Linked DNA regions of Homo sapiens. The protein of the gene in region 6 purifies or fractionates together with the protein of the main gene of each other region. This does not show direct contact. Each region holds a gene or a part of one and is shown on either strand. Other genes may lie near its edges.

Evidence for each region.
Region 1: the proteins of INPP5K (region 6) and P4HA1 purify together in Homo sapiens (affinity purification with mass spectrometry; one large-scale study listed by BioGRID and IntAct). This does not show direct contact.
Region 2: the proteins of INPP5K (region 6) and FSAF1 purify together in Homo sapiens (affinity purification with mass spectrometry; one large-scale study listed by BioGRID and IntAct). This does not show direct contact.
Region 3: the proteins of INPP5K (region 6) and CMBL purify together in Homo sapiens (co-immunoprecipitation; one large-scale study listed by IntAct). This does not show direct contact.
Region 4: the proteins of INPP5K (region 6) and PDXDC1 purify together in Homo sapiens (co-immunoprecipitation; one large-scale study listed by IntAct). This does not show direct contact.
Region 5: the proteins of INPP5K (region 6) and GAN purify together in Homo sapiens (affinity purification with mass spectrometry; one large-scale study listed by BioGRID and IntAct). This does not show direct contact.
Region 7: the proteins of INPP5K (region 6) and NPTN purify together in Homo sapiens (co-immunoprecipitation; one large-scale study listed by IntAct). This does not show direct contact.

What each region holds. Positions count from the first base shown.
Region 1 is NC_000010.11:73,044,867-73,048,366, forward strand, and holds part of P4HA1 (prolyl 4-hydroxylase subunit alpha-1 isoform 2 precursor), read right to left. Parts: intron 2,236-3,500; coding exon 2,059-2,235; intron 186-2,058; coding exon 115-185; intron 1-114. UniProt on the Homo sapiens protein: Catalyzes the post-translational formation of 4-hydroxyproline in -Xaa-Pro-Gly- sequences in collagens and other proteins.
Region 2 is NC_000001.11:231,231,176-231,234,675, reverse strand, and holds part of FSAF1 (40S small subunit processome assembly factor 1), read left to right. Parts: intron 1-3,500.
Region 3 is NC_000005.10:10,277,095-10,280,498, forward strand, and holds the end of CMBL (carboxymethylenebutenolidase homolog), read right to left. Parts: coding exon 3,359-3,404; 3' UTR 501-3,358; downstream 1-500. UniProt on the Homo sapiens protein: Cysteine hydrolase. Can convert the prodrug olmesartan medoxomil into its pharmacologically active metabolite olmerstatan, an angiotensin receptor blocker, in liver and intestine. May also activate beta-lactam antibiotics faropenem medoxomil and lenampicillin.
Region 4 is NC_000016.10:15,016,526-15,020,025, reverse strand, and holds part of PDXDC1 (pyridoxal-dependent decarboxylase domain-containing protein 1), read right to left. Parts: intron 2,907-3,500; coding exon 2,858-2,906; intron 2,706-2,857; coding exon 2,604-2,705; intron 1,187-2,603; coding exon 1,061-1,186; intron 1-1,060.
Region 5 is NC_000016.10:81,352,962-81,356,461, reverse strand, and holds part of GAN (gigaxonin), read right to left. Parts: intron 2,058-3,500; coding exon 1,707-2,057; intron 1-1,706. UniProt on the Homo sapiens protein: Probable cytoskeletal component that directly or indirectly plays an important role in neurofilament architecture.
Region 6 is NC_000017.11:1,496,845-1,499,612, reverse strand, and holds part of INPP5K (inositol polyphosphate 5-phosphatase K), read left to right. Parts: intron 1-1,490; coding exon 1,491-1,677; intron 1,678-2,768. UniProt on the Homo sapiens protein: Inositol 5-phosphatase which acts on inositol 1,4,5-trisphosphate, inositol 1,3,4,5-tetrakisphosphate, phosphatidylinositol 4,5-bisphosphate and phosphatidylinositol 3,4,5-trisphosphate.
Region 7 is NC_000015.10:73,623,390-73,626,889, forward strand, and holds part of NPTN (neuroplastin isoform b precursor), read right to left. Parts: intron 1-3,500. UniProt on the Homo sapiens protein: Probable homophilic and heterophilic cell adhesion molecule involved in long term potentiation at hippocampal excitatory synapses through activation of p38MAPK. May also regulate neurite outgrowth by activating the FGFR1 signaling pathway.

The DNA.
Region 1 (3,500 bases), on a different chromosome or scaffold from region 6:
GTGGTGACTTGAGCTGGTGACTGAAAATGACCCACTTTCCTTAAATGAATAATTCCTGTAAGATGTATAAAACACTCATTAGAGGGCAAAATATGCAGCATACACATCTCTTACCTTTTGCTAATTCTGTAATGTACCGTCTCCAAGTCTCCTGTTATTGGGTTTGAAATGGTGGCTCGCCTCAGCTGTGAAGCCAACCATCAAAATAGTTGCATTACAAAACAAAAAACTGAATCACATTTACCCAACCAGTCAGAATTCCAGGGTTTTTACAAAGGAGGCTAAAAAGAGAAAATAACTCCATACACTTCCAGTCACCTTGTGCTGAGCCTTGAAAGCCAGTTAGTTTTTTAGGTTTTTGGGGTTTTTTTTTTTTCTTCAATTTTTTGTTTTGCATAGATGGAGGACATACAAACAAAAGAGATTGGAAATTAAATTTCTTTCAATGGTGAAAGGACATGACAGTAAGAAAAAGAGACATATCTAAAATTTGAAGTCTAATTTACAGTTAAAATAGCCATCTGGGGGTGGGGAGAGAAGGGGAAAAAAAGAAGAATGCCTATTTGCAATTAATGATCCATTCCAAAACCTTTGACTTTAATTTTTTTTAGTGATGGAACTGTTTGCACAGGTTAATGTTTAAAATTCATTTTAAGGTCAATCTTTTGTCCCTTCAAGATAGCCACTCTCATTAACATATACAGTGAAATAATCTTGGACTGAGAACAAAGGCAGAGGAAAAGAGCTCATAAATGTTAAAAACAGCAAGAAAGAGGTGACCGCCTAGATAATAATTTCAATTTTTTTTAATGGAACGATGATTCTGAGGTTGTGAGAGCATGAAATTTTATTGCCATTAAATTTATTGATCAAAAACAATCCAAATTGAGGAATCTCCAGAATATAACTTGATCTCCAAGTTGAAATGAATTAATTACCTTGGATGGCACCAATAATATATATTAATGTTAGACCAGTCTTTTGCATTTATAATGTAATCTTTGGCCAAAAAAAAAAAAAACCACCAATTTGGAGAAGCAGAAAAACTCTAAAAGAAATTCTAACTTCATTTTGTAGTATAGATATCCAGATAATTCAAACCTTTGATATAATAAGGGTCAACAAACTATGGCCACAGACCAAATTCAGCCTGCTACCTGCCACTGGAAATAAAATTTTACTGTAATATAGCCACACTCTTTCATTTACATATTTTCTTTGGCTGCTTTTGCACTATAATGGCAGAACTAAATAGTCATGACAGAGATCATATGGCCTCCAAAGCCTAAAAAATATCTAATATTGACCTTTATGGAAAAAATCTGCCAACTCCTGTGTAAGACAGCAAAGCATGCCTAGAATTTATTCAACAATCTCTTTATGAAAGTGATGGCAGCTTGTATTTTACTATCAAGAAGACCAAATATGTTTTAAGAACAAGCTGATGGGGGAAAAGGCAAGAGCATAAAGGGTAGTCTTTTCCACATTCTCACTAAAGAGTTTTTATGCTCAACACTAAGCTTATAGATTGGGTTTACGTTAGATTCTTTTTCTTTTTAAGATAAATTCTGTGGGTTAAAGTCAGAAAACTATCACCATTTCAAATTAACATAATACTTGTGCCCAATTATATCTTTTTATAATAGTAACAATGTGCCTAAAAGGGAATAAAAATACTTCCACGGTATTCTTTCAGTAAAAATACAGAAGTGAAAAAGCTGGGCTTTGAGTAGCCTCTGAGATTAAAAGACTCCAAAATACAGAGAAAAGTTTATCAGGAAGACAGTGAAACACAAATTTGTTAATGGTGAATAAAAATCTCACAATAATTTTCATAATTCAGTGCTTAAAACCCAGTTAAGGGTACATTACTTGTGTTGATAACAAATGGAAAAACTGGCATAAACACAGCATCATTAGTAACTCCATTATGCTGAGGCAAAATATCTTTAAAAAATCTGTGGCATTATTCGTATATCAATTATCCTATTTTTTTACAAAGAAAAATTGATACAAAGGTACAGTAAATTGAGGAGAAAGAAAGAAAACATTATTTACCCTTGGTTTTGCTAGGTCTTTGACGATTTCAATTTCTGCATCAGAAATAATATCATGGAAGCGAATAATACGAGGCTTGTCCCATTCATCCTCCTGTTTAGCTGGAGCCAGAATAAATTTAGGATTACGGTTTCCATCATGGTAGCGGCAAAAGAGTTTTTTCTGTCTCCGAGGGGTCTAAACATAAAGTTAAGAATATGATGAATATATTACAGTAATAATACTTTTAATATCTATTCCTATGCAGATAAGAGACAATAATCATGCTTGCATATACAGAGTATCTCTGGAAAAACATACAAAAGAAGCAGTACTCTGCAAATATTTTGCCTCAAACAGGATGTTCAGAATTTTAAATACAGTATTAATGATTATTTTCTGGGTGAGAGAGGCGAGGTCTTAAATAAGGAGAAAGGTAGTGTATCTCTTTTAACCCTTCACTCATCAAAATAAAGTTCAAATGTTTAAATATGAAAAAAAAGCCATGTTTATGAAAATATTAAATGAATGCCTGGCATTGCTCTAAATGGCACAAAGTAACTGGAAAGCACCCAGAGACAAAAAGTTTCTAGAAGAAAAAAAAAACTAGGTTTTCCTAAATACCTCACAGTTAAATGCTTGTGGCAAAAAAAAAAAAAAAAAAAAAGGAATTTTTTTAAGGGCAAAATAAAAAATGGATAGCTCTGAAAAAGAAAAAATAAGTTATTAAACAAAGATCCCAGATGCTTTTATTAGGCAGTATAAAAATAGAGCAGTCAACAAAACAAATTCCCTTCAATCATCTATGTATTATATTAATAAGTTATTTTGTTGCCTACTTCTCTTAATTAAACAAGTATGTCAGGCCTGGCATGGTGGCTCATGCCTATAACCCCAGCACTTTGGGATGCTGAGGTAGGAGGATCACTTGAGCCCAAGGAGACCAAGATCAGCCTAGGTCACACAGCGAAATCTCGTCTCTACAAAAAATTTAAAAAATTAGCCGGACATGAGGGCACTTGCCTGTAGTCCCACATACTTGAGGGGCTGAAATGGGAGGACTGCTTAAGCCCAGGAGGTAGAGGTTGCAGTGAGCCATGATCATGCCACTACACTCCAGCCTGGGTGACAGAGCAAGAAGCTGTCTCAAAAAAACAAAACAAAACAAAAACAAGTATGTCACATAAGCAGGAATATGAGTAGTCTGTTTCAATTATTATACTAATAGTATACTAAAACAAATAATGATTCATGTTTATTCTCCATGCACTTTACCTAGAGTCAAATCCAAGGCTTTAATTTTTAGTAAGTCTTTTATATAATGATGAGATGAATGTAGCTATTCTGAGAAAAAGAATTTTTTGTTTTTGTTTTTGTTTAGACAAAGTCTTGCTCTGTTACCCAGGCTGCACTGCAATGCCTTGATCTCGGCTCACTGCAGCCTCTGCCTCCTGGGTTCAAGC
Region 2 (3,500 bases), on a different chromosome or scaffold from region 6:
ATGAGAAGCCACCAAAGAATTTCATGCAAGGGCATGAGGTAATCTGATTTAAATTTTAAAACGATCACTGTAGCTCCTATGTGGTGAATCGATTATAAGGGAGCAATAGCAAGAGGCATGAGGAGACTGATGTAGGGGTTTGTTGCAGTGGTCCAGGTTCAAAATAGCGTGGCCTGGACTAGTGATCTCAAAAAAATGAATGGGCAAACCTACTCTTTCATAAGTGCAAGGCTGCCTGTAAGGAAGAAAATTCTTATGCTTTTAAGCAATGAAAGCGTCAGATGTAGCTTAACACACCTGTGTGTTGCTCAGCCCTTAGAGCTGTGTCACTGCCATTTCTCCACAGCTAGCATTGGGCCATCTTAACGTGAATCATTCACTGCCCCTGTTTCAGGAACCTTAGCCTCTTTTGTGGCCTCAGATAAGAAAGAGATAAGAAACACATAATAGAATAGTGTTCTGTAGATCAGAAGGGACCTTTGCATCCTGAGACTGAGGTACATGAAGGCCGCCCCTGAGCATATAGCGAATTGCTAATATTTATTGGGGGTGTACTGAGAGTGTTTGTTTATGTTCATTAACTCATTTATGGTCTCAATCCTCACAATTCCTGGCACCTGTCTTCATTTCACAGAGAAGCTTGAGACTTACAAGAGGTTAAGTTACTTGCCTGTAGTTAAACATTAACCTCACAGCCCCATATCTGCAATTCCAAACACCCAGAGCTCTGGAAACCACAATTTGATTGATCCCTTTTCTTTTAAGATTGGTGCAGATTTATTTGGCAGAAAAACCTGATGAAGCTTTTAAAAATCATTTTTGTTCGGCTGGGCACGGTGACTCATGCCTTTAATCCCGGCACTGTGGGAGGCTGAGGCAGGCGGATCACAAGGTCAGGAGTTCAAGACCAGCCTGGCCAATATGGTGAAATCCTGTCTTTACTAAAAATACAAAAATTAGCCGGGTGTGGTGGCATGCGCCTGTAGTTCCAGCTACTCAGGAGGCTGAGGCAGGAGAATCGCTTGAACCCGGTAGGCGGAGTTTGCAGTGAGTCGAGATTGTGCCACTACACTCCAGCCTGGGCAACAGAGCAAGACTCCGTCTCAAAAAAAAAAATTTTTTGTTCATCTCATTTGGTGTGAATATTCATAGATATTGCCACAGAAATATTAATGTGTTTAATTATGGATTACTGCCTTGGACCCTACTGGAAGTGGTCTGTAATATTCAGTATATTCAGTTTTGCCTTTTTAAAATGTAAAGACTTCTGAATTTTAAAGCTGGAACCTGACCCTAAGGATGCCAGATAAAGGATTATGGAGCTGAAGTAAGTGCCAAAGGTTGGGTTCAGACCCCAGGCTTTCTGGCTTCAACACTGTGTACATAACTTTTATACTAGAGAGAGCATAGGTGAGGTTAGGCTCTGCTCTTTGTCCTTTGAGTGACACAAGTACACTGACTCTGAGCCATCGCCAGACAGAGACATTTCTTGCAAGTTATAGTCAAATAGCTTTGATCGTTCCCCAAATTCTTGCAGCTCTCATACTGCCCCGCAATGTGGATGTAGCCCACTGCATGGTACTCCACCCGGAAATCCTCCATGCTCCAGTGCCTCTTCTTACTTTTACGCCAGACTTCCTGTTCCTGAGTAGATCAGTGTCAGATGGGTGTTAGGAAGAAAGTAATCTAGCTGAAGTAATTTAGGCTCATCAAGGTGTGAACAAACTTCTTAATATTCATACAGCCGTCTGCATTTTTAAAAGAGCATTTGTTTACCGGGCTACTCTCTCTCTAATTGGAGACAGGTTGGTTGGGCACTTCAACTAATAGATTAAAAAAGAAAGAAAATCTAAGCCGCGTAAGAGAAAATACCTAAATCACCCCATAGACGGGTTTGCTGAATCTGGTGGACTGCCTGCCTTCATCTCTCACTTTTCTTCCAAACTGTTCTTTCTTTTTCTAGCTTTTCTTCCTTCTTCCCTGCCCAGCATATAAGTTCTCAGAATCTCCATACATATCCCTCTCCCTTGTGTGGGATAGTAAGGCTAGATTAGTTGCGATAGGTTAGGCTGTGATTTGATAACAAATAGTCCCTACATCCCAGTGGTTTAAAAGACAAAAATTAATTTTTCTCATGTTACATGGCCATCGGGATTTGCAGAGGCAGGTCTCCTGTGCCACACCATCCTCACCTAGGGACCCGGGATGACGGGGTGCCACCATCTGGAGGGTGGTTAGTTGCTTTAATGAAGGAAAGGGGAGTTAATGAAGGGCTCTTAAGGGGTCCACGTGGAAGTAGGCACACACCCCCTCTGCTCGTGTTTCTTTGGCCAGGGAAAGCCACCTAGGCATTCCTAGCATCAAGTAGACGGGGAAGCGTGAGTCGCCTGTGTGCCTGGAAGTAGTGGAGGACCCAGTATTGCCTATGGGCAGTAATGCCTCCTACTGCAGAGAATATGGGGGGAAAGAAAACCGAGGAGACCACTGATGGTTTCTAAGTCAGGTCATGTATTATGAATAATGTACTGAAGTGATTCTCAAGCTATGAATAAAAATAAAAATTAGACAGTGGTGGGTCATGCTAATAGGGACTCAGCAGCTATGAAATAATGAGGCAAGAATTTTTTTTTCCCAAAAGTTTGTGTTTGATACATGCACAGATCTAGACCTCAGACCCTTTCTCAAAAAGCCATCAATAGCTACAAAACTAAGATGTTTCTGGTGAACTGTTTAAAGAGGGATGAGGACACCGAGGTATCTGTGTCTGTGCCAGAGCTACCACCAAGGGACTCTCTCCTCCCCTTGGTCTAGTCGGCCCCTCAGCCCTGGTGTCCCCACAGCCAAGGTGCAGGGGATTAGGTGTTCTCCGTGGCTGCTGATGGGGACAGCAGGAACTAGGAGAGGCCCGACATTGCTCCTTTCTTTTGTAGGCCGGTCTCTTTCCAGGGCCCAGGGGTTTCAGCCTCATAGTAGCTATCATACAGTTGGCCAAGAATTTTATTACTGTGCTGAAATCCTCTTTAAATTGCTCCATTCTCATGCTAATCTCTAGTAACAGATCGGCCAAAAACATCTATAACATCTCCAGTATTGCTAGAAATCTGACGTGCCTCGCGCCACTGCACTCCAGCCTGGCGACAGAGTGAGACCCCGTCTCAAAAAAAGAAAAAGAAATGTTCAACTTAGAGACTTGATTTAGCCATTACTTCAGTGGAGCGGGTAGGAGGGAAGAGAGGAATTACTTAAATGTTTAGAAAAGGCGGTAAATATCTTAGGGGATCTTGGAGATCTGGGAACGGTATACAGGGTTTTGTTTGTTTTTATAGGGGTTAGATATGGTCATAGTAAATAGATTAGATGTGCATGGCAGTGGAAAAGATATCGTAACTTCAAAGTAAATGTGGAATTTTTTCCAGTCATAGAATAGGAATAAGACTCTTTCTGGTGTGGATAAAATGGAAGTGGCGCACACAGAGTCCTCCGTGCTATGCCTGTGGTCT
Region 3 (3,404 bases), on a different chromosome or scaffold from region 6:
TTTGTTTTTTTTTTTTTTGAGATGGTCTTGCTCTGTGGCCCAGGCTGGAGTAAAATGGCACCATCTCAGCTCACTGCAACCTCCACCTCCGGGTTTAAGTGATTCTCCTGCCTCAGCTTCCCAAGTAGCTGGGATTACAGGTGCCCACCACCATGCCTAGCTAATTTTTGAATTTTTAGTGGAGATGGGGTTTCACCATGTTGGCCAGGCTGATCTTGAACTTCTGACCTCAAATGATCAGTCCACCTCAGACTCCCAAAGTGCTGGGATTACAGGCATGAGCCACTGTGCCTGGCCAAATCAAGTACTTCTGATGAAAAGTTAGCATCCAAATGGAGATATGTGTAAGCAGAAAATACACACCAGATGTCAAAGATAGAGGAACAAAAAAAAAAAAATACAAAATATCTCACTCATGATTCGTTACATTGATTACACACTGATGGAACATTTGTGATAAATTGGGCTAAAATGCATTATTAAAATTAATTTCACTTGTGTCTCTTTCCTTTTTTTAATGGGGCTATAAGAAAATTTAAAATTACATACATGGGGAAAAAAGCTAAAGTTGCCATTTTTTCCCTTTACCTTCATTTATCTGTTTGTCTAATAGTCACTGAAGAACATATCTTTTTAAAGAAGTACGTGTGTGACTTACATTATACTTCTATCTGCAGTGCTGGTTCAGAACACCATGACATTTGACCAAAGGACTCAGCAGAGGGAAGGCTGCCCAGGCCCCAAGCTCACCATGAAGGATACAGCCACACCCTTGGTTCATTCTCGCACGAATTTCAGACCTCCCACCTATGTTGAAGACTCTGGCTACTGGCCACATGCTCACCGACACCGTTCCACGGCAAAAGCCCAGCACATCTCAGGGGTTTCCTGGGAGGCCGGATGAATGTGTGAGGCCTCCTGGGAGCAGCCCTCAGCAGGCAAGGGCTTTGGCCTGTTGGGGTCCACAACTAAGTGTCCACAGTAGACCAGCCCTGCTCAGGCTTGGATTCTCTCAACATTAGGCAAAGGGTCTCCCCATACCCATTTGACAGATGCAAAAACTGAGGCTCAGGAAGCTCAAGTTTGGGAATTCTTTGAATTTTATGTTTCCTGAGCATCTATTTGAATGTAAGTTGGACTTTCTCATACTAGAAGCAGGGATTAGTAACACAGTTTCCAGTTATACAACTTCTCACTGTTCCCCAAGGTGGTCGATCCAGACATCTGCCTTACAAAACCGCCTCCTGGGACCACCTTCCCATGGACAGCTGGATACCACCTGCTTGACTTGTCCCACTGACCCCCACACCCACATGGACCATGCCGATATCCTACCCACACCGACCCCTCTCAGTCACAGCGTGAGTCCCCGGGGCTCATGCCTGCTTGCTCTAAACCCCCCAGTTAGAACCTCCAGGGGAAACCTGCATAGATGACACCCTGGGCCCCAGTGAAGGCTTTGGCTCATAGCTCCCTCTCTCTCTCGTTCTCCACCTTCTGGTTGAGCCCATGTGTCCTGAATGGCTCCCCCTTTTTGCTGGCCCTGTGAAGCGTGCTGCCCTCTGTTCTCTGGATCTGTAAGCAATAAACTGCTTCTGTCATTTCTTGGGTTCTGATGAGTTGCCTCCTCTACCCCATCCTAACTTCTTTCCCGGTCAGGGCTCTCCGGGAGAGTGGCTGTCTCAGTAGGAATAAACTGGACACAGGTCAGATGAGAGCCACAAGGTCATGTGCCAGGATAAACAAGCTTCCTGCGAGAGGGACACCTGGCCACAGGTTGGACACTCAGGAATCAGGCCGTCTGTGAGGTCAAAGAAGGATCCCATGAAAGGCACATGGGAAACACCCACGACCACATCCCCAGGATCCCCGTCAGGGCAGGGCTAGAGTTTACAGCCACTCTCTCCTGAGAAGGACGTCAAGACAAAATTAGGAAAAAAACTACAACATCAAGTCACTTGCCCAAAGTCACATGTACGCACCCCGTAGGTGCAGGTGCAGAGTTTCTCACCGGCTCTCCCCTTTACGCCACCACCAGAAACACAGGAGATATTTCTGAGGTAGCCTCAGGCCCTGGGACCCAAAAATGCCAGTGCTTGGAAATCCACTGCTTAGGAGACAACAGCTGGGTGACAACTCTAGCCCACCGTTCTCTGCTATCTTTTTAAAAAAGCTGCAAATTCAAAAATTCAAAAAATTAGTTTATTAGCTTAATATAATTAGGTCAATGGAATCCTGTTTTGATCTCAATACTTCCCATATTGCAATATATAAATGTGACAAATTCAGCTGTTTTGTGGCATAGATAAGTGTCTAAGCTGGGCAGTTAGTCTACCCGTTTATAGTTCATGTTCTTCATGGCTTTGCAGCATTTGTCACTTTCTATGATGTGTTCAAAGACCAGAAAAGGCCACACTTGACCTGTCAGCTGGTCCTTGAACAGCTGTAGGTTTTTTTTTTTTTTTGAGACAGAGTCTCCCTCTGTTGTCCAGGCTGGAGTGCAGTAGCGCAACCTCGACTCACTGCAACCTCTGCCTCCAGGTTCAAGTGATTCTCCTCCTCAGACTCCTGAGTAGCTGGGATTACAGGCACATGCCACCATGCCCGGCTGATTTTTATATTTTTAGTAGAGATGGGGTTTCACCATGTTGGCCAGGCTGGTCTTGAACTCCTGACCTCAAGTGATCCACCCACCTCGGCCTCCCAAAGTGCTGGGATTACAGGCGTGAGCCACCGCACCCGGCCTGTAGGTTTTAACTAATAATTAGGGTATTACTCTATCATTCTCTATCATTCAAATTCTCCAGGTACTGACCTGGTTTTTATTTTATTTATTTATTTATTTACTTATTTATTTTTGAGACAGGGTCTCACTCTGCTGCCCAGGCTAGAGTACAGTAGTGGCACAATCTTGGCTCACTGCAGTCTCCACCTCCTGGGTTCTATTGATTCTTGTGCCTCAGCCTCCCAAGTAGCTGGGACTACAGGCGTGCACCACCACACCAGGCTAATTTTTGTATTTTTTGTAGAGATGGGGTCTCACCATGTTGGCCAGGCTGGTCTCAAACTCCTGACCTCAGGTGATCCACCCACTTTGGCCTCCCAAAGTGCTGGAATTACAGGCATGAGGCACTACACCTGGTCAGACCTTGTTTTTAAATTATGATTCGATGTACATGTCAAAAATTAAATTATTTCATGCATTACGTCCTACTGAATTTGTGTTTCAAATGAAATAATCAATTTTAGGATTCCTACACTTATTTTATAAAAGTGAAAATTAAATCAAATGATCTAACTATTTCCAAGCAAATTTTGGGATGAAAGCTATTCTAGGAAGGCTTGCCCTTGATTCTTGCTACATGTACTTGTTCAGCCACTCAATTAAATTCCTTCTGGCCTCG
Region 4 (3,500 bases), on a different chromosome or scaffold from region 6:
ATTCTCCGGCCTCAGCCTCCTGAGCAGCTGGGACTACAGGCGCCCGCCACCACGCCCAGCTAATTTTTTGTATTTTTAGTAGAGACGGGGTTTCACCGTGTTAGCCAGGATGGTCTTGATCTCATGACCTTGTGATCCACCCGCTTCAGCCTCCCAAAGTGCTGGAATTACAGGCGTGAGCCACCATGCCCAGCCTGTTTTTTTGCTTTCTAAATGCTATGATCTGAATATTTATGTCCCCACAAAATTCCTATGTGGAAACCTAATCGCAAATGAGTTGAGGCCTTTGGGAGGTCATTAGGGCATGAGGATGGAACCCTCACAAACAGGACTAGTGACCTTCTGAAAGAGGCTCAAGGGACTGTGCTCACCCCTTCTGCCATGTGAGGCCACATGCAAGGCACTATCTATGAGGAACGGGCCCGACATGGAATCTCCTGGCACCTTGATCTGAGACTTCTCACGTCCAGAACTGTAAGCAATAAATGTCTGTTGTTTATAAATTACCCACTCTAAGGTATTTTGTTATAGAAGCCTGAATGCTCTAAAACACTGAAATATAGCATAATTATATATTTTTCACAATTAGAACACACCTAAAATGGAGAGAGAATTAGAATTGTCCCCAAGAGCCCTGCAATTTGGAAACCCAAGCCAGCTGGTTTATAAAATATCCATGCCCTCCATAACCACCTTGTAACCTTCCTATTCCCTCACCGTAGTCAGTCAATCAAGGGGAACACTCGCTCCCCACCCCTCCACCTTTTGCACCCTTCTCCACTCCTTGGAAGTCATCTGTGACTTCTTTTCTGATCCCATGCTGACAGTGGTGTTCCTTTTCATCTGATTTCATCTGCACACAAATGCTGGGACAGACAACCCAGCACTTTCTCCCAGAACTTTGAACAAGAAATATTTACATGCAGGGCGATTAGTCTCTGGCTCACGAGACAGTCAATCCAGACAACACCACTCTGGATGGAAGGTACAGAAATGAGATGTTTTTCTGTCTCTGCTGTGGCCAAGGAGTCTTTCATTTAAATGTCAGGCTTCTACTCACCAGTTGACAGGCATGCTTGATCCTCTCCACAAACCCATCAAGTCCCAAGTATTGTAAAGATAACCACAGAGGCAGGGCACGGAGTTTGTCTGTGGGCTTATTTGATGTAAGACCAGCAACTAAAGTCTAAAAAAGCCAAAAGAGGTTTATTAATCAAAGCCATTGCAATCTCATAATAGAACTAACCAGCTACCATTTGCTACCCACTTAGTGTGGGCTAGATGCCATACTAGTCACTAGGCTTGCATTATCCATGTGATCTTCCAACAACTCTGTGAGCTAAGTATTCTAGGTAACTTCACTCAGAGACCTCGGTTTGTCCAAGGGTTCACAGCTCAGGAGTGGCAAAGCCAGGAAAAGCCAGTGGAAAACCCAGATGGGTCACATCCCAGAACCTAGGAGACTCCCCACTTCGAAGGTAGCTCTGAGCATCCTCAAACACCTGGCCATTATTAGCTGAGCAAGACAGCAGTGTTTTAGCAGAAATCACTTAAACCTTATTTTGCACGCTGACCTATATTATCAAGAACCACATTATTATTATTATTTTTTGTGACAGGTTTCGTTTTCATTCTGTCGCCCAGGCTGCAGTGCAGTGGTGTGATCATAGCTCACTGCAGCCTTGATCTCCAGGGCTCAATCAGCCCTCCCACATTAGCCTCATGAGTAGCTGGGACTACAGGCTCACACCACCATGCCCAGCTAATTCTTTGTTGTTGTTTTTTCTTATAGAGATGAGGTTTCACCATGTTGCCCAGGCTGGTCTCAAACTCCTAGGCTCAAGCGATCTGCCTGCCTCAACCTTCCAAAGTGCTGGGATTACAGGCATGAGCCACCATGCCTGGCCCACAACTACGATTAAAAAAAAAAAAAAATGTGGCCAGGTGTGATGGCTCATGCCTGTAATCCCAGCACTTTGGGAGGCCGAGGCAGGCAGATCACCTGAGATCGCGAGTTCAACATGACCAACTTGGTGAAACACTGCCTCTACTAAAAATACAAAATAAGCCGGGCGTGGTGGCGCATGCCTGTAATCCCAGCTACTTGGGAGGCTGAGGCAAGAGAATCACTTGAACCCAGGAGGTGGAGGTTGCAGTGAGCCAAGATCATCTCACCATTGCACTCCAGCCTGGGTGACAGAGCGAGACTCCATATCAAAAAAAAAAAAAAAAAGTTAAAACCTATTGGGCAATGTGGATCAGGAGGCTTAAAACTCCCCCACTCAGTCATTCCACATCTGGGAACCTATTCTAAGGAAATAATTAGAAACACAGAAAGACGTTCACTGCTTCATTATTTCAGTAACAAAACTCTGAAAACATCCTATAAGTTCATAAATGGAGAATAATTAAATTGTGACAGAATATTATACAATCATAAAATGTCATTAAAAAAAGTCTCACAAGTTTCTCTTTAAAAAAATGAAATAGAAGTGAAATTATGGGTATTTTTCACTTTTTCCTGTATTTTTCTGGATTTTGCCCCCAAAGCCAATAATGTGTATTAGCCACACCCACTCCCTCCCCAGTGAGTGGAAACTTACCAAGGCAGGGTCATCGTGTTTATACAGTGTCACCGCAGGAACAGCTGGCAAACCCAGCCACGGGCCAGGAGTCATCGTCATGCTATCACATTTGGCTGCAGCCTACCAAAACAAGAACAACTCTTTGTTAGATTATCAGAATACACAAACCTAACACCCTCCTCCATTCATAAAAACTGTGAAGAGCCATGAGGGACTGAGTGACTTTAAATTCATTCTTAAAAACACCAATATTCAGTAAATCAACAACATACCAGCACTGATGAGGAGACATAACCCAGAGCCAATGTTGCCAGATTCACACTGGAAGAAAAAACACCAGTCCAAGAACTAATTATTTAATGTTGCTTACTCACCATGTACTTAAAAAAATAAAGGCTGTGCTGTTGCAAGTTGACACTTAAGTATATTTTTAATGTTATTAGCTTTCATTAACAGCAACAGAAGGTGTGCTTTATACATATGAAGGAAAATCCTGAAAATGCACTTTAATAAAAATGTGTCTCAGGAACTATCCCCGCTCATTTAATATAATGGGAGTATTCTTCTCTTTCATGGATCTTATTTTCCAGTTATCATTCTTTACTTAGGGATCAAAAAGAAACCTCCCTGTATGATGTGGTGGATATGGGCTACTCTGGCTGCCCACGTCCGTTCCCCCTGCTTCTCTTAATGGCCCTACAATAGCCTTCCAGGGCGCCATCTCCATTTCTTCCAGCAGAACATGAGCTTTGTGGGGAGGAGACACCACTATCTGCTCCAGAGGAGAGCAAAGAACCTCAACTATCAGAGGATTACTTCTCCCTGGCCACAGTGGCTGGTTCAATACGAGACTTCTGTTAGGACTTCCAGCTGACCACGAAGCTGGAAAGAAGGCTGGAGTTTCTGCAGCTACTT
Region 5 (3,500 bases), on a different chromosome or scaffold from region 6:
CTTTATTTCACACATTTGGATGTGCCATGAGTTAAATCATGTTTATACAAATATTATATACAGTAATAGCTCAATACAATATGGTAAACTTAGACATCAACATTAATAATACAAGAAAAATATACAAAAGCCAAAGTTTAAAAAAAAACCTGAGTACTATATAATCATTTTTGCAGTAATTACTGTTCAAAAATATCTAAGACGACTAATATGAATTTACACTTTTACTGCTCAATCACTAAATTTGAACTGACGAAAGTATTTTATAAATGTAAAATAAAACTGTGAGTTTTAAAAATCAACTGTCTTTACAGCATGAAGTTTAAACTGACCAAAGGACAAAGAACTGCCTCGTTTTCCCAGCAACCAGCCAACCTTAAGCATCTCCCTTGCTTTAAGGCAAGAAGAGGGCAGGACGGAAGCTGGCAAGGAGCAGCATGTCCCACTGTGGTCTTGGTGAGTGGGAGCACATAGGAAATTTTTCTCATTTTTCTATCTCCTTTACCAATTTCCCCAACTAACATGGAAAGCAGAACACTACCTGTCCTTACCTGTCCCAATTAAAACCAATACTACAAATATGGTTTCTAAACATGCATACTTATGGGCTTACAGAATTCAAAAAATTATAAGATAATCATCAAAATTTAACAGTCCAGTTTTAACTTACAAGAACAATTAACAGTAAAATTATACATTGTGAGATCCACTCTCTAACACCTAATATATTTCTTATTTTGAAAACAGTAATTGGAGCTAGTGTCTTATTTATAATAATCAGACTTAAAAATGAAGTCCTGGCTGGGCATGGTGGTTCACACTTGTAATCCCAGCACTTTGGGAAGCTAGAGTGGGAGGATTGCTTGAGCACAGGAGTTTGAGACCAGCCTGGGCAGCACAGCGAGACCCTGTCTCTACAAAAATCAAACAATTAGCTAGGCATGGTGGCACACGCCTGTGGTCCTAGCTACTCGGAGGCTGAGGTGGGAAGATCACTTCAGCCAGGAAGGTTGGGACTGCAGTGAGCTATGATCGTGCCACTCTGGCTACTGCCCTTCAGCCTGGGAGACAGACTGAGACTCTCTGCCCCCTCAAAACCCTCAAGTCCTGTGATTTTGCTCCTTCCTCCAAGGTATTCACAATTTGGATCTAGAGGCTGATATTCTTTAAGACCTTCACTCCCAGAACCTTCCCTCTTGAAACTGCACTGCCACACAAACTCCAGAGCCTGCCTGCTTTCTCCTGCGTGGTGTCAATCACACCTGAAGCTCCTCAGGCCCATGCCCCTCCACCCCTGCCATCGATCCACGTGCCACCCCCCTGCCTGCTGCAGGCACCTGAGGCCTGGCAGAGGTTAGCCTAGTGATATAGTAGGTCAGGATGCTGAGAGCAAGGGTGGGGATACTGCGTTTCTATAATCTCCAGCTTAAGCTTGAAATGCATTTTCCCATTAAAAACAACATACAAAGGATATTACGCTCCTTACAAGGGCTAATATTTTCACTGATATATTGTGTGGCATGGGCTTTTGCAGACTGGTCTGAAAAACCAACTGCTTTCATGATATAGGGGAACATGTTTTACAGGTATCTTTTAGATTGCTGCATCGTAAGTCTTTCATGATGAAGAAGAAAAATAAAACAACTAAAATTTGAATTAAAAAGAAATAAAAAGGCAAATTTGACCATGTTATAAATGACAGGTACCTTTCTTATTTCTGTATCATGTGCTATCCATCGAATTACTGCTTCAAAGACATATCTTTCATTGCCAACGTTTAACTTCTCAAGAGAAATCACTTCTTTAAGCTTTTGAGGACTCAGCTCTAAGAATTCTTCCGTGCTGCTGACGTCTCGGAAATGAGTCTCCAGGTATTCTGTGGCAAGGTAATGAACGTGATGGAGGCAGTAATGTAGTGCAAAGTCACGGATACCAATACAGTTCTCAGCAGCAATGCAGCCTTCCAAAAACTCACAGCACAGGGTTTTAAGGTCCGTCAGTAGCAGCAGGTCAGCTGCCTGAACAACATCTTGGATTGTATCTTCATTTAGCCTGATCTAAAAAAGTAGCATAATTATCTTATATTTGAATGTGTACATTTAAAACCCAAACCACTAACCTATTAATTGGGGCCACATGAAATTTCCATTTATTTTAGATCAAAGATAATCGAATATTGGCAATTTCATATGGTTTAACCCAGCATTTTTTTTTTTTTTTCCAAGAGTTGGAAGGCACCAACATAAGCAAATGTGTGCTTGGTTAACTTTTCCCAGCTCTGCCCTTGCTGTACCAATGTCAACCACCAATAACCCTTTTAGGGTGAACTGTCCATGTTGTTCACTTCTGTAATTCAGAGAAAAACCTTAATGACTCAAATGCTTGGGAAATGGAAAGTTCTACATTCTATGGTAAAGTCAACATGATTAAGTACCAGCATCAGAACTGATGAAAATCTTGCCTCCCCACCTATGAAGTTCACTCTTCCGCTAAATGGCATGCCAACCTGAATGCTAACCCCTTGAAGGGAGAGGGGTTTCCAGTGTTTCAGAAGCCTCATTCCGCATCCCAAAACACTGTACGCAGTGCAATTTGGTACACAGACAGATACACTTAGGTCTCAAAACTACTTTTTGGAATAAATCCCTAATACAAGGGTGTTTTTTTTTTCTCATTATGAACATCTACTTTTCCTTAATTTTCTTCAATTTTCTGACTAATGCTTCTTCCTCCACTGACTTCACAGTGCTCCAAAGCATCAGGAAAGAAACAGTTCTCTAAAATATTGCCACAGTCCTAAGTGGACGACCCCAAAGCATGGGCACTTCACCCACATTCGCAAATGCAAGGGAGACTTCATGAGGAGTATAGCAAGAAACATTTTTACATTTTACACTTTTTGTACCACAGATTTTTAAAAAAGTATAATTGCCAATCATCTTAGAAACTGAGCAACAAAAATGTGGAAAGTAGTATGGTGAGTAAGCCACAAGTAGGGGAAAATGTTCCATTTATATGACATTATATTTAGCCACAAGACAGCAGGCAGCTGTAGACTCTTCAAATATAGGCACGTGAAAAAAACACTCAACTGCATTTCAATAAAACAAAACTGCCAATTCAGGAGTTTGTTATAACTTACATTCCAACTATCGTTTTTTTTTTTTTTTGAGACGGAGTCTCGCTCTGTCGCCCACGCTGGAGTGCAGTGGCGCAATCTCGGCTCACTGCAGGCTCCGCCCCCTGGGGTTCACGCCATTCTCCTGCCTCAGCCTCCCGAGTAGCCGGGACTACAGGCGCCCGCCACCTCGCCCGGCTAATTTTTTGTATTTTTAGTAGAGACGGGGTTTCACCGTGTTAGCCAGGATGGTCTCGATCTCCTGACCTCGTGATCCACCCGCCTCGGCCTCCCAAAGTGCTGGGATTACAGGCGTGAGCCACCGCGCCCGGCCCCAACTATCGTTTTAAATTTAAATTGGGAACAAATCACAGAACTCAAT
Region 6 (2,768 bases):
CAGTTACCTAGAGGAGGAATGCATTTTGTCTCCGGAGCGTATTACCTTTTCCAAACCCCTCAGGGAAACTGGCAAGTGAAGAACAGGTGGGAGGTCTCTCAGTCGACTCCTTTTTTTTTGGAGATAGAGTCTTGCTCTGTCGCCCAGGCTAGAGTGCCGTGGTATGATCTCAGCTCACTGCAACCTCCGCCTGCCAGCTTCAAGCAATTATCTTGCCTCAGCCTCCCGAGTAGCTGGGATTACAGGCACCTGCCACCATGCCTGGCTAATGTTTGTACTTTTAGTAGAGAGTCAGGATGGTCTCGATCTCCTGACCTCATGATCCACCCACCCTGGCCTCCCAAAGTGCTTGGATTACAGGCGTGAGCACCGCGCGCGGCCTCTCAGTCGACTCTTGAGAGGAAATCATAAAGGCCAGTGTGCATGGCGAGCTCGTTTTGCACCAAGCACTGTGCTAAACATTTTATGTACTTTATCTCATTGACTCATCCTAGCAACCCTTCATGGTAACTACTGTTATTCCCTCCACTGGCAGGCGAGGAAGTTGAGGCCTGAGAGAGGTTAGTTTAGTTTGGTGGTTAAGAGCACATGCTCTGTGGTCATGCTGGCTGGCCCTGAATCCTGGCTCCACCACTTAGTACCTTGTGACTTTGGGAAAGGTGCTTCCCCTCTAAGCTAAGTCTCAGTTTCTCCACCTGTAAAGAGAGCATGATACACCCAGGCACAGTGGTCCATGCCTTCTAATCCCAACACTTTGGGAAGCTGAGATGGGAAGATCCTTTGAGGCCAGCAGTTCAAAACTAGGCTGGGAAACATACTGTCTTTACAAAAAAATGTTTAAAAATTAGCCAGGCATAGTGCCACGCACTTACCGTCCCAGCCACTCAGGAGGCTGAGGTGGGATCGCCTGAGCCCAGTAGTTTGAGGCTACAGTAAGCTGTGATGTCACCACTGCACTCCAGCCTGCATGACAGAGCAAGACCCTGTCTCTTTAAAAAAATAAAATTAAATTTAAAAAAAGGTGTGGTAACAGTACTGATCACAGGCATCCTCTGGTAAGCATTTCCTAAATGCTTCCCTTCCCTTTCCTGAGGCATACTTCTAGTATGCAGGGCAGCCAAATACAAGCTCAGGTGTGTCCAGCCTCAGAATCTCAAACCTCAGCTGCTTTGATCCACTGCTGCTTTTGCTCAAGAAAGAAGCAAAGCTTTGAAATGGAATGTTTCTGAGTCACAATTTGATCCATAAAAACATGAGCTAGACATACAGAGGGTCCTGGCTAAGTCTGACAAGTGCTGGCATACTTTGGATTCTGTTAGGCACCTTCCTGCCTGCTGCCTTGCTCCCTCCGGCTCTGGCCCCGGGGGTCTGTGGCTGCCAGTAGTTGCTGGAGTTAGGGGCTCCAGCAAGCTCATGTGGGCTCATTTCTGCTCTTAGCCAACCCTTTCTTCTTTCCCCATTCTTCCTCTTTATGCCCCCTGCCCCTGCAGTGAGAAAAAACGCAAGCCTGCATGGACCGATCGCATCCTGTGGAGGCTGAAGCGGCAGCCCTGTGCTGGCCCCGACACTCCCATACCGCCGGCGTCACACTTCTCCTTGTCTCTGAGGGGCTACAGCAGCCACATGACGTACGGCATCAGCGACCACAAGCCTGTCTCCGGCACGTTCGACTTGGAGGTGAACTTCTGGGCTGCCTGATACTTGCCAGAGGAATAGCTATGCTGGCCACATCCCCAAGCCCTCCATCCCTGGATTCGAATGTCAGCCAGTCCCCCAGGGGAGACCTGTGGAGGCCATGATTGCCTTTCCTGCCAGGTCGGATATCCCAGCTCCTCTTAGGAGCCGTTGATGGCTCTGTCTGTCAAAACCGTGTTCAAACCCTTTGTGAAAAGGTTTCCATTTCCTTTGGGTATTCTCCCTTGGGGCTAATGAGTTCCATTAGGCTTATTACCCAATGTGAGAAGTAGGACTTCTTTTATTTGTCCTAAATCTATCTGGATCAAGTTGCAACGGGCGCTCCCTCCATCCCTGCGTCCTTGTATCTTGCTATCTGAATGACCAAGGTGGTGTTGGCCTCCTTCAGGCTGCTGCCCCTCAGCCTTCACGTTTTCATACAGGTTTACTGGCGTGTGTGTGTGTGTGTTAGGGTCTCGTTCTGCCGCCCAGGCTGGAGTGCAGTGGCGGTATCATAGCTCACTGAAGCCTCCACCTCCTGGGCTCAAGTGATTGATCCTTCCACCTCAGCCTCCCTAGTAGCGGGACTACAGGTGCACGCCACCACGCCTGGCTGTTATGTATTTTTTGTAGACACAGGGTTTCACTATGTTGCCCAGGCTAGTCTCGAACTCCTGGGCTCAAGTGATCCTCCCAAACTGTTGGGATTATGGGTGTGAGCCACCGTGCCTGGCCCCCGCTGGTATCTGCGTTGTGTTCTTGCACGTTCACAGCTGTTCTCACCAGAGCATCCCCCCATGTGGGGCTTTGGGTCAGATAAGGCGGGAGGCCTGAGAGCAGCTGCCTGGCCGCCTCCTTAAGCCTCTCAGCCGTGCCTCTGCTCTCCGCCATTCCTACCCCCCAGCGCTGGGCCCCATGGGATTCCGACAGGGCCAGCCACCCGCCGACTGGTGTTCGGCCCTCTTTCCTGATGGCCAGCCAAGGTCCGTTGGAGCAGCCCAGTGGAGTTCCATGCCCACCCCCTCTGGGTGCCCCACCTTCCCCACTATGTTGGAAGGGCACAGTGAGGAACACTTGGCCTCAGAGGAGGGAAT
Region 7 (3,500 bases), on a different chromosome or scaffold from region 6:
AAAAACTTCTGGCTGGCAGGGGGGCTGTGGCTCATGCCTGTAATCCCAGCACTTTGGGAGGCACAGGCAGGAGGATCACTTTAGTCCAGGAGTTTGAGACCAGCCTGGGCAACATAGGGAGACCTCATCTCCACAAAAAATTCAAAAATTAGCCAGGCATGGAGGTATGCGCCTGTGGTCCCAGCTACTTGGAAAGCTGAGGCAGGAGGATCACCTGAGCCTGGAAGGTTGATGCTGCAGTGAGTAATGATCACGCCACTGCATTCCAGCCTAGGCAACAGAGTGAGACCCTGTTTCAAAACAAAACAAACAACAGAAAAACACACTAACTTTTGAAAAGTCCATTTCATTTCATATTCATTTCCATATTTTTCTCTCATTGAGCTTCTAAACAAGCACAGTACTATGTAAGAAAGAGATCATTTCTGTTTTTGAGTACCCTCTCAACCAGCTCTTTGTCCTACTTATAATGGTTCTGACGATGAGTGCAAATAACTCTATTCTTCCGCTAGTTTCATTAAAATCATCTTAATACTAAACCTATGCTTTCTTCCCTGTGCTCTAGGCCATTGCTCTTTGATACAGCCCATCCATCTTTGGAGACTGCCTAATTCCCTTACTTCATTTACACTGCTACCTTGAAAGTATTAATAGATAATCACATCCCCCTAGTGCTCCCTGTTCCTAAGTTTAGCTCCTTCAGGCTTTTCTCCTAAATCTTAAGCTACCATCAACATAGATTCTATGTCTCTTCCAAAATGTGGTTAGAAAGTATTCTTATTTGGAGTTCAATCCTAGTAGAAAACAGTAATGCTGTTAGGTTAGCACCATACTTTTGATACGTGATCACTATGTTATTTGTGTAAGGGTAATTCAATGACAGTTCACTGCAAGCTATTTGAAACCTCTTTATACTTGCTTTTTTCCAGGTAGCAGTTTCCTGGTTTGCATTAAGGCCATTTATTTCATCTCCCTTGATGCACGATTTGAGATTCAGCATTAATGAATATAATTTCAATGCTGGAGCTCCTTGTGCTATTTTTTTCCAGTTGTTCGGCAATGATTCCCAAACCTGCTAAACTCGTATAATCAAAAAAATCCCAAGTTAAATTTAACACATTCCTTCAATCTATGAATTTAGAAGTTTTTCACAGATAGTTGCCAACAAAGGAGGACATCTTGTTGCCTTTTTTTCCTCCAGGAAGCAGTGTCTAAAAACTAGGAAATAATCCCACTACTCTAGGATCTTAAACATGAACGGCAGATGATTCTTTAGTGATGGTTCTGCTTACCCTCTCTCTCTCTTCCCTTGGCCAGTATTCAAGTCAATCTGTACTCAACAGAAATGTGCCTCAGACTACAGCAACCAAGTAAAGCATTTGGCTTAGAATAAACATTAGTACTCCCAGCCCTGCAAACTCAAAGGCTCAGGAATAAGGAACACAAGGTCTAATTTAAAAGGAAGGTCAACTGAATATACTGGAAAAGTTATGTCTTGATTATATTCAAATTACTGTGGCTTCCCCTTTTTCTAAAGTTCTAAAAGGAAAAAAAATCGCTATATATAATGGCTAATGTATAAATCCAAAATGTTTTATTTTCTTTACTCATAATGACTAATAACAGTATATGCTGATATTACTGATAAATGTCTAGTGAAAATCCTTGTGTTAACAAAAATCATAATTATTCCAGACTAACATGGCATGTAAAAAATAAACAAAAGCCCCAAACTACTCCATACCTGAAAATGCTGTTTTTCAAACTGAGTTTCACGGCCCATGAATTGTGAATTCAATTTAGAAGGTCACTATGGTTCTCTTAACTACCTCACACAGATTAATAATAGGTAATGTTTCACAAGATATTACATATTTGTGTAATTTTGTTATAAATTTCTATTAGTCAAAAACTACTTCTCTATCTGGGTCACAGACAAAAAAGTTTGAAAGCCTTTTTCTAAAGAGCTTTTTTTTTTTGAGACGGAGTCTGGCCCTGTCACCCAGGCTGGAGTGCAGTGGCATGTTCTCGGCTCCCGGGTTCACGCCATTCTCCTGCCTCAGCCCCGAGTAGCTGGGACTACAGGTGCCGGCGACCACCCCTGGCTGATTTTTTGTATTTTTGGTAGAGATGGGGTTTCACCGTGTTAGCCAGGATGGTCTCGATCTCCTGACCTCGTGATCCGCCCACCGCAGCCTCCCAAAGTGCTGGGATTACAGGAGTGAGCCACCGCGTCCGGCCAAGAGCTTTATTTTTCAAGTAATTTCAACATGATTACATGTGAACCAAATATTATCTTTTACTCATATAAACTAACCCCTACTGACTACATTTCAGGTCCTAGAAAATTCTAGTTTGCAATGTAATTTTTAGGTTATTTTTAAATTAATAAGTAGCAAGGGTGTAGCTGAAACTAGATGATGAATACACAGGGGTTTATTCATTACTTAATCTATTTTTGTACATGTTTGAAATTCTAAAGATCTAAAAGAAAAAAAGGAAAAGAAATGGACCTAACAGATAACAAAGTAGTACCATGAATGTTTACAACTTGAGACCTTTAAACACAATGTTTCTAAGGAATAACAATCAAGGAACTTGCTAGGATTTAATTCAGTTAACACTTGGGGTTGCCTTCTTCGACTATAATGGACGGATTTCCAGGTCTTAAAAAATGCATAAGGGACTGCAGAAACTAACTCATATATAGAAAACAAACTTTCTCGAAAGATAACATAAAAATACAAATAGTTAAGTGTGTTTCATTGTCTCTTTATTAGTCAACCACTTTCAGCCAACAGAAAGATCATAAAATACCTACCTACCTGGCAGGAATATTCACTTCTTTATTCACACTGGCAATTTTCCCAGCAAGTTTAATATAAGATCTCTGCATAACAGACACGGTTCTGCCTCCCTTGAAACAAGAACTGCAAGGGTTGTCTGAAGTAGATTTAGAGGCATTTAGATTTCAAAACAGTGCATGCCTCAAAGTTAATTTTCATTATATTCAAAAGTAAGTTTCTAAAAACTTTTAAACAGAAAGTGTTATCATCTCTGAGCCTTTAACCTATTGGAGACAGTATCTAAGCTATAAGGGCAAGATATTTAGTAATTTTTAGAACTGAAAGGAAATTTAGACATCATCTAGTCCAATGGTTTCCAAATCCTACCATCAGGAAGAAAAGAATCTCAAAGGCATAACAATTTATATATGCAAAACAAACTCTTACTTGTGTGTTTTCCTGTATCTTCCTGCACATGAAATACTATGCCTTATTAGTATTCTATCAGGAAAGGATGTGACATTTCGTTATGCATTTTATATTTAATCACATTTAGTATGTGAGTATCCATTTAGATATGATTAAAACTATTGGTACGATTTGGGACTTAATGCTTTCTAATTATAGAAACTTACATAATATATCCAACCCTAATACTTTCAGAGTGATTTCATACCATCTCATTTATATTTCACTGTCTAGTAAATTTGAAGT